Homo sapiens: one gene and its partner. The protein of the gene in region 1 interacts with the protein of each later gene in a biochemical or structural test. Each region holds a gene or a part of one and is shown in the gene's direction. Other genes may lie near its edges.

The links. Proteins that work in one complex are often made in the same cells at the same time.
Region 2: the proteins of KCNJ12 (region 1) and IL16 interact in a test that uses a peptide from one of them, tested with the Homo sapiens proteins (one large-scale study listed by IntAct).

The regions. Positions count from the first base shown.
Region 1 is NC_000017.11:21,381,927-21,387,252, forward strand, and holds part of KCNJ12 (ATP-sensitive inward rectifier potassium channel 12), read left to right. Parts: intron 1-5,326. UniProt on the Homo sapiens protein: Inward rectifying potassium channel that probably participates in controlling the resting membrane potential in electrically excitable cells. Probably participates in establishing action potential waveform and excitability of neuronal and muscle tissues.
Region 2 is NC_000015.10:81,203,076-81,207,931, forward strand, and holds part of IL16 (pro-interleukin-16), read left to right. Parts: intron 1-4,856. UniProt on the Homo sapiens protein: Interleukin-16 stimulates a migratory response in CD4+ lymphocytes, monocytes, and eosinophils. Primes CD4+ T-cells for IL-2 and IL-15 responsiveness. Also induces T-lymphocyte expression of interleukin 2 receptor. Ligand for CD4.

The DNA.
Region 1 (5,326 bases):
TGACATGCAGTGAGTGCTTGGTAGCAATGGTAGCCAGCATTGTCAGCCCATTCTGCAGATGAGAAAACTGAGCCTCAGAGAGGTCACTGTCCAAGAACTGTGGCGCTTGTTGGTGGACAGAGCTGGATTCTGACCTTTTCTCTGAGCCTTTGGCCTGCCATCTGTCTGTCTGGCTGAGTGGGAGGGAGTTGGGGCTTCCTTCAGGCCCCTACTCTGGGTGGAGTGCTTTATATCTGTACCCTCACTGCTTCAAGCTCCAAGCCCTGTTGTGTCCTCTAGCACTTGGCCTGCTTCAGCTCAGGATGTCCCCATCTGATTCCTTCTGAGGATCACAAGCCGTTCCCATTGCAGATCCCAGCAAACTGAGGCCTGGGGCGTGGGGCCTCTCATATCTCAGCTGATGGCTGAATCCTTTCTCCTGCCTTCAGCATACATGTTTGGAGGGCGGCTGAGGGGATGGGGCTGGCAGGGAGGGGACAGTGTCTCTGTTTCTTGCCCAGTTAAGCATTCCAGACTCCCCACGGTCATTGAGTTTCATGTCAATGCATTTCACCTCTCCTTTCCAGTCTTTTTTTTGGAACATGACACCCACGTTATAAAATGTTTAAAAATGTTTATGATTTGCAATGATCAACTCCAGCGGCTTTAGTGGCCAGCAGTGATCACCTCTGCAACTATAGAGACTGGCATGCTTTCTGCTTGCCTGAGCACTGCCCGTCCCTCCTCCCCTGGATGTCCATGTTGCCTCAGAAAAGACAGGGCTGGTGGCCCCTTTTGTGGGGAGCAGATAGGTTCTGGTCCTGGGCCTCAGCCAGGTGTGCCCGGTTGGCCAGGTGTGCAGCCAGGTGTGCCAGGATGGGAGATTGTCTCCTGGGGCTCACCTGGGGAGTGGGGGCAGAAAAGGAAACCAGGTAACATGAGGACTGGCAGCAGGGATACTTCTCAGCCCTCCCTGCCTCCACCCCAAGGGTGTACAGGAGGGTGCGACGTGACACCTCCACTGTGGGAGCGGGCAGCCTGAGGCCAGAGAGGGTCCCCACAGCCGGAGGTCACACAGTTCCCGGAGGAAGGCTGGGGCGCAGCCTTGAGGCCACAGACCCTCTGTCCCTGATGCTTCCAGGCAGCTTTTGGGGACTTGGCAGGGGAGGGGCCGGGGAGAAGGGAGCATGTGGAGACTGAGATGTGTATGATAGAGAGGATGAAAGGCCGGGGGCAGGAGAGGTCAAGGGGGATGGAGTGGCCTGGTGGCCGGAGGTGTGCCCTTGCCCCTGCCCGCCCCGCTTGCTCCAGCTGCAGCCGGGCCCGAGCTGGCGGCTCCAGGCCTGCAATTCTCCAGCACTTAAAGCAAAAATAAATCGCTGCCAGCAGCTGGCGTTCTGTGTGGCAGCAGCCGAGCCAACCCCGCCCCGACCCTCTGCCTCGGGGCTCCTGGTTCCGGGCCAAGCCAGGCTTCCATTCAGGGCTGGGGGGCGCCGAGGCCAGAGAGGGTCCAGGGGAGCTTGGCGTGGCCGGAGGGGGCGGGTCCTGGCATGATCACAGGGAGGGCAGAGGCAGATGGAGACCTGGGGCTTCCAGGGGTGCTGGGATCTGGGGCAGGTTGGGGATGCTCAAAAGTGGGGCTTCTGACAGTCTTGGGTCTTGTGGAAATAGGGCCTGGGAGGGGCAAACTCAGGGGTCACAGCCACCTGTTTGGCCCTGGGGATCCCCAATCACAAGCCACCCCCAGCCTGTCCCCTGGATGTCCCTTTCTTTCCATCCCCTCCTTTCCCTTCTCAGAGAATCCTAGAGGTCCTAGAGGTCAGGTATTTGCGTGGTGAGCTTTGAGGATGCAGGATTTTGGCCTCATTCCTGAGCTCAGCAGGTGGCTGGGGATGTGGCCTGCACAAGACCCCTGCCCTGGGGGGCTGACATCTCAGTGGGTGGGGCAGGATGAAATAGACAAAAAACACATGAGCCATCACGGGCATTGTCATATTTTGTTGAATATAACAGTTTTTAATTATAAGAGTGTTATGTGCTCACAGTAAAGTGATAAACAGTTGTAAGGGGAAAAGTGAATTTCTCCTCCTCACCCCCTGCCTCCCCCACCCCCAGAGTTTCTTGTCCTTGGGGTGACCATCATTAGAGAGGCTTCTGGGTTTCTCAGTGCTTATGCAGACGTGAATAAGTAAATGGAGGCATAGAAACGTGCTAATATCTAAGTTGCCTTTTTTTAAATTCGTATGGGACCATTGCATACATGTCATGGCGTCCCCTGCACTATGCGCACTGCTGTGTGGTGCCCGTGCCCACTGGACCCAGGGGGTCTCATCCTGTCGTCCTGGGCATGGATTGAGGGCTGAGTCTTGGGACTGTAGGATCTTTGTGGCATCTGAATGCACAGAGCCACCGAAGTCCGTGAGTCATGGGTTCTTTTCGTTGTCATTTTAGCTGCGTTGAGACAGAGATCCTGGATTGCAGGATTTGGTTTAAGTACCAGGAGAGGTACCGAGTCCTCGCCTGGGTGCCTCCTTCGTCACATCCCTCTGGGAGTTGGGATAATCCAGATCCCCTGCCTCCATCCCCAGAGCTCAGAGGGTCTGGGGGGCTTCAGAGTCGCAGCCTGGGGCTTTGGGACCTCTGGGTGAACCTGGCTCCCACTCAGGGCAGAGTAGACACGCTGGAGCTCGGAGGGGAGGCGCTCATTGCTGCTCCCACTGGGGTCCTTCTTCCTTTAGCCTCTCTTCTTCCCTTAGCCCTGACCTCCTAGAAACAGGATCACTTGTTCCCTCACTGTCTTCAGGCTGGGGCAGGCCTCTGTGTGGGGAATGTCACTTTGTTTTTTTTTTTGTTGTTGTTTGTTTGTTTTTTTTTTTTTTTGTTTTGAGACGGAGTCTCACTCTGTCGCCCAGGCTGGAGTGCAATGGCGCGATCTCAGCTCACTGCAATCTCCGCCTCCCGGGTTCACGCCATTCTCCTGCCTCAGCCTCCCGAGTAGCTGGGACTATAGGCACCCACCACCGCGCCCGGCTAATTTTTTTTTGTATTTTTAGTAGAGACGGGGTTTCACCGTGTTAGCCAGGATGGTCTCGATCTCCTGACCTCGTGATCCGCCCGCCTCAGCCTCCCAAAGTGCTGGGATTACAGGCGTGAGCCACCGTGCCCGACCCAGGAATGTCACTTTGACCTGTCTCCAAGCTTCCGCATCTCAGTGCCTGTCCCATCCTTGTCATTCCTTGGAACCTGGCCTGAGATGCATCAGGGTGGTCCCACCTTACTCCACCAGGGCCCCTTATTAGAAAGGATCTGCTACACTGATTGGGAGAGTGACTAGTCTGTGGTCACTCTCAGTATCTGTCTCAGTGTCTGTGGGGATCAGATATACCTGGTGCCCTTCTTTTATGAGCCTCACTTTCCATGTTTGTGAAATGGGGAGGCAGTCCATTCTCGTGTCTGGGCATCTGTTCTCTCCTTCCCTCTGGGCTTGGGCACTGCAGGCAAGACAGGGCAGCTTCCTGGCCTCCTTGATCCCTATTCTGCTGTGTGGCCGGAGGCTCGGCCCTGCCATCACCCCGGCCTGCTGGGCTGCAAGCTGTCAGCAGCACCTGCCCAGTCAGAGCGGCCAGGTCCCTCCCCAGGCCCTGGGAGCCTTGAAGACCACTGGAGGCAGTGCCCCAGGAGGTAGCCGTGGAGTGGCCCCGGCCCTCCCTGGGGGTTGTGTAACAGAGGAGACCCCGCTGCCCTCCTCTTTTCCTCTGCAGGGTGGAGGCTGGCCTGGGCCCTGCCAGCACAGCCTCCAGGCCACTCATGGGTCCTGGCCTCCATCCCACGGTAGATGCCCTGACTCTGCAGCACCAGGGCTCATGACCAGGCTCTTGGTGGCCTTAGGACCAGCTGCCGCTGGGTGGGGATGCCCCAGATCAAAGGCAGGTAATAGAGAGGAGACTGGGAGGACAGTGGGTGGGGAGCAGGAACCCTGGGAGCCTCAGTGTCCTCCCCTGTGAAATGGGAACACTAGAGAAAGTGGGTTGGGCAAACCCACACGCCTACCATTGCATCTGGGGTGTGGAAGGAGCACTGGGGCAGGAGTCTGGCAGCACCACCAACCAGGTCCAGTAAAGAAAGCCGAGGCAGGGATCAGAGGGCGGCAAGCCAGTGAGACCCTGTGTTGGTTTCCTGCTGCTGCCACCATAACAGACTGGGTGGCCTAAAACAGTACAAATGCAGCATCCGTTCTGGAGGCCAGACGTCTGAAACCGGTGTCTGCAGGGCTGGTTCCTCGCGGAGCCTCTGAGGGAGAAGCCATTCTGGGGCTTTCCCCCAACTTCTGGGGCTTCTGGCGGTCCTGGCATTCCTTGGCTTGTGGGCATCTCCAGTCTCTGCCTCTTGTCTTCACATGGTCTCCTCTCCCTGTGCTGCCTCTCCCTCTCCTCTCTCTCACTCTTTCTGTTATGAGACAGTCTCACTCTGTCAACCATGGCTCACTGCAACCTGGAACTCACAGGCTCAAGTGATCCTCCTGCCTTAATCTCCCAAGTAGCTGGGACTACAGATGTGCACCACTATGCCTGGCAAATTTTTAATTTTATTGTATTTATTTTTTTTAACTATATGTTTTTTTGATATGGAGTCTCGCTCTGTCACCAGGCTGGAGTGCAGTGGCGTGATCTCGGCTCACTGCAACCTCCACCTGCCAGGTTCAAGAGATTCTCCTGCCTCAGTCTCCTGAGTTGCTAGGACTACAGGCATGCGCCACCACGCCCAGCTAATATTTATATTTTTAGTAGAGATGGGGTTTCACCATGCTGGCCAGGATAGTCTCGATCTCTTGACCTTGTGATCCGTCTACCTTGGCCTCCCAAAGTGCTAGGATTACAGGTGTGAATCACCGCGCCAGGACCTCTACTTCTAAGGATGCTTGTCATTGGATTCAGGGCCCACCCTAATACAGGATGATCTCATATCCAAACTCTATATTTGCAAAGGCTCTTTTCATCTGAATAAAGTCATATTCACAGGTTCTGTGTGGACATCTCTTTGGGGAGGGCACCATTCAGCCACTACTCATGGCCAACCCAGATATGCCACCCTGCATCCTTTTTCTCTTTTAAGAAACGTGCTCTCCCTGTAGTCCCAGCTACTCAGGAGGCTGAGGCAGGAGAATGGCGTGAACCCGGGGGGCGGAGCCTGCAGTGAGCGGAGATCGCGCCACTGCATTCCAGCCTGGGTGACAGAGCGAGACTCCGTCTCAAAAACAAAAACAAAAACAAAAACAAGAAACGTGCTCTCCATTTTGGGAGGCCGAGGTGGGCAGATCACGAGGTCAGGAGATCGAGACCATCCTGGC
Region 2 (4,856 bases), on another chromosome or scaffold:
TGATGATGAGCACTTTTTCATGTGTCTGTTGGCTGCGTAAATGTCTTCTTTTGAGAAGTGTCTGTTCATATCCTTCACCCACTTTTTGATGGGGTTGTTTTTTTCTTGTAAATTTGTTTGAGTTCATTGTAGATTCTGGATATTAGCCCTTTGTCAGATGAGTAGGTTGCAAAAATTTTCTCCCATTCTGTCAGTTGCCTGTTCACTCTGATGGTAGTTTCTTTTGCTGTGCAGAAGCTCTTTAGTTTAATTAGATCCCATTGGTCAATTTTGTCTTTTGTTGCCATTGCTTTTGGTGTTTTAGACATGAAGTCCTTGCCCATGCCTATGTCCTGAATGGTATTGCCTAGGTTTTCTTCCAGGGTTTTTATGGTTTTAGGTCTAACATTTAAGTCTTTAATCCATCTTGAATTAATTTTTGTATAAGGTGTAAGGAAGGGATCCAGTTTCAGCTTTCTACATATGGCTAGCCAGTTTTCCCAGCACCATTTATTAAATAGGGAATCCTTTCCCCATTGCTTGTTTTTGTCAGGTTTGTCAAAGATCAGATAGTTGTAGATATGCGGCATTATTTCTGAGGGCTCTGTTCTATTCCATTGGTCTATATCTCTGTTTTGGTACCAGTACCATGCTGTTTTGGTTACTGCAGCCTTGTAGTATAGTTTGAAGTCAGGTAGCGTGATGCCTCCAACTTTGTTCTTTTGGCTTAGGATTGACTTGGCAATGCGGGCTCTTTTTTGGTTCCATATGAACTTTAAAGTAGTTTTTTCCAATTCTGTGAAGAAAGTCATTGGTGGCTTGATGGGGATGACATTGAATCTATAAATTACCTTGGGCAGTATGGCCATTTTCACGATATTGATTCTTCCTACCCATGAGCGTGGAATGTTCTTCCATTTGTTTGTATCCTCTTTTATTTCCTTGAGCAGTGGTTTGTAGTTCTCCTTGAAGAGGTCCTTCACATCCCTTGTAAGTTGGATTCCTAGGTATTTTATTCTCTTTGAAGCAATTGTGAATGGGAGTTCACTCATGATTTGGCTCTCTGTTTGTCTGTTATTGGTGTATAAGAAAGCTTGTGATTTTTATACATTGATTTTGTATCCTGAGACTTTGCTGAAGTTGCCTATCAGCTTAAGGAGATTTTGGGCTGAGACGATGGGGTTTTCTAGATATACAATCATGTCATCTGCAAACAGGGACAATTTGACTTCCTCTTTTCCTAATTGAATACCCTTTATTTCCTTCTCCTGCCTAATTGCCCTGGCCAGAACTTCCAACACTATGTTGAATAGGAGTGGTGAGAGAGGGCTTCCCTGTCTTGTGCCCGTTTTCAAAGGGAATGCTTCCAGTTTTTGCCCATTCAGTATGATATTGGCTGTGGGTTTGTCATAGATAGCTCTTATTATTTTGAAATACGTCCCATCAATACCTAATTTATTGAGAGTTTTTAGCATGATGGGTTGTTGAATTTTCTCAAAGGCCTTTTCTGCATCTATTGAGATAATCATGTGGTTTTTGTCTTTGGTTCTGTTTATATGCTGGATTACGTTTATTGAATGCTAAATGACGAGTTAATGGGTGCAGCACATCAACATGGCACATGTATACGTATGTAACAAACCTGCACGTTGTGCACATGTACCCTAAAACTTAAAGTATAATAATAACAAAATTAAAAAAAAAAAAGAAAAAAAAGAAAATTTGGAAGGCATTGGAAGCAGCCTGCACCAAGTCCTGGAAGCTAGAGAGCGCATGGGACATTCAGGGGACTGAAAAGGTTTAGTGCTGTAATAGAATGGAGTTCAAGATAGGGCAGAGCAAGAGCCTGGAGGGGTTGGGGGAGCAGACCATGATGATAAAAAAATTGACAGGCCACAAAACAAGACAAATTTTAAGTCTCAGTGACGGTTGTTAATACGATTTTGAAATAAAGCAAATGATAAATCTTAGACCGGGCGCAGTGGCTCACACTTGTAACCCCAGCACCTTGGGGGGCCAAGGTGGGTGGATCATTTGAGGCCAGGAGTTCAAGACCAGTTGGCCAACCTGGTGAAATCCCATCTGTACTAAAAATACAAAAATTAGCCGGGCATAGTGGCACGTGCCTGTCATCCCAGCTACTCGGGAGGCTAAGGCAGGAGAATGGCTTGAATCTGGGAGGCGGAGGTTGCAGTGAGCCGAGATCACACCATTGCACTCCAGCCTAGATGACAGAGCAAGACTCCATCTCAAAAAAAAAAAAAAAATCTTGAGAGATGATATATAATGATCTATGATGTCCCCTAAATAGTCAATCACTCTGAGAGCACCTAGCACCTCACCTCTTGCATAGGGAAGAGGCATCAGATAGTGCCATTCTTGCAATCAATGAAGAGGAAAAATACAGGCTCAAATATTGCTTTGAAAAATTCTTTACATAGCCACCAGTAATATCAAATAAAATGAATGAAACCTATGATTCATTAAGAAGGAAAAGAAAGTGTGAATAAGTTGACTGGAAAACAAGAAAAGGAATAATTAAGGAGCCATAATAAGAAAAACAAAACATGTGAGAAGAAAGATGAATCAATTAAGCTCTGTAGTAAGATTACACATTAAAATAAAAGAGACTCTCAGATTCAGTTTAAAAAAGGGAAACAAAAAAAGCCTAAAGAAACAAACTCTCTCTCCCCAGTCCAATTATATCCCACTTTCAAGAGACACATTTAAAACTTAATCACATAAAGTTACAAATAAAGGGATAGGAAAATACTGTGCAAATGCAAATTAAAAGAAAGTGAGGTGTCAGTGTTAATTTTGTCAGACAAAATAAAAATTGAGGCAACTATTAAATAGATCAAGAATTACTTTTTTACAAAATGATAAAAAGAGCACTCAATGAAGGCATGAAAATCAGAAAACTTTGGGTAAACATAAAGCGTCGAAATATGTAAAACAAAAAAATTAGAGATATACTCCAAATATGGTGTTAGATTTCAATGTACACCACTGTTAAGATTTTTTCAGATTAATTAGACAAAATGTACATAAAGAGCTTGAATTCTATGACTTACAAAATTGAATATGTGCTTACATATATATGCAGTCATGTGTTGCATGGCAATGAAGATAAGTTCTGAGAAATTTCATCGTCGTACAAACGTTACATAGGGTACTTAAACAGACCTGGATGGTATAGCCTACTACACCCCAAGGCTATATGGTATTGCCTACTGCTTCTAGTCTACAAGCCTGTACAGCATGTTATTGTAGGCATTTGTAACACAGTGGTAAGTATTTGTGTATCTGAACATTTGTAACAAAAGGTACAGTAAAAATATGGTATTTTAATCTTATGGGACCACTATCATATAAGCAGTTCTTTGTTGACCATAATGACTGCATTTTAATATCACATTTGAATATATACATATTTGAAACCCAAAACACAGAATAATCATTCTTTTCAAATGTGCACAGAACACATAAAACACTTAGTCACATCACATACTGGCTAACAGAGTAAACCTCAATGAATTCCAACAAATAAAAATAAGACACATCCTGTGGCACGATGCAATTAAACTGGAATTTTCTAATAAAAAATTGTAAGAACAGCAACACTAAATCTGGGAAATTTAACTACATGAAATTAACAATAACACCAAAAATCTCCTGAAGAACTGAGTTTAAATTGGGAATCAAAACTGCAATTACAGACCATTCCTAAAATAACATTTAGAATATTGTATTTCACAATTCCTGGGTTGGGGCCAAAAGGATGTTCAGAAGAGAATTTCGGGCTTTAAATAATGATGATGATGATGATGATGATGATGACGATGACATGGTGGCAATAAAACCACCCAACAAACCATGCTAAGAAATTTACATCCAGGCCAGGTGTGGTGGCTCATGCCTGTAATCCCAACACTTTGGGAGGCCGAGGCAGGTGGATCACGAGGTCAGGAGATCAAGACCATCCTGGCTAACACGGTGAAACCCCGTCTCTACTAAAAAAACCACAAAAAATTAGCCAGGCGTGGTGGTGGGCGCCTGTGGTCCCAGCTCCCCTGGGGAGGCTGAGGTAGGAGAATGGCGTGAACCTGGGAGGCAGAGCTTGCAGTGAGCTGAGATCATGCCACTGCACTCCAGGCTGGGCGACAGAGTCAGACTCTGTCTCAAAAAAAACAAAAAAAAAAAAAAACAAAAAAAAGAAAAGAAAAAAGAAATTTACATCCAATATTTCAATTTATAATCACAGTGTTGCTGTGAGATGGCTAATCATCTGCATCTTACAGATTTTTAAAAAGTGATTCACAAAAAGGCTAAGTAGATTATTTTAAATTTCAACTTTATTTTAGATACAGGGGATACATATGCAGATTTGTTACATGGGTATATTACAACTAGATAGTGAGCATAATACCCCATATGTAGTTTTTTTAACCCACGCCCCACCTCCCACCCACCCCCTCTAGTAGTCCATGGTGTCTGTTGTTCCTCTGTTTATGTTACTATGTGGCCAATCTTTAGCTCCTACTTACAAGTGAGAACTTGAAGTATTCGGTTTTTTGTTTCTACATTAATTTGCTTAGAATTATGTGTGGTCTCTAGCTCCATCCATGTTGCTGCAAAGGACATGATTTCATTCTATTTTATGGCTGCATAGTATTTCATGGTGATACGTACCACATTTTCTTTACTCCACCGTTAATAGGTATCTAGGTTGATTCCATGTCTTTGCTATTGTGAATAGTGCCACAATGAGCATACAAGTGCATGTGGGTTTTTTTTTTTTTTGGTATAATGATCGGTTTTTCTTTGGGTATATATGCAGTAATGGGATTGATGGGTCGAATGATAGCTCTACCTTA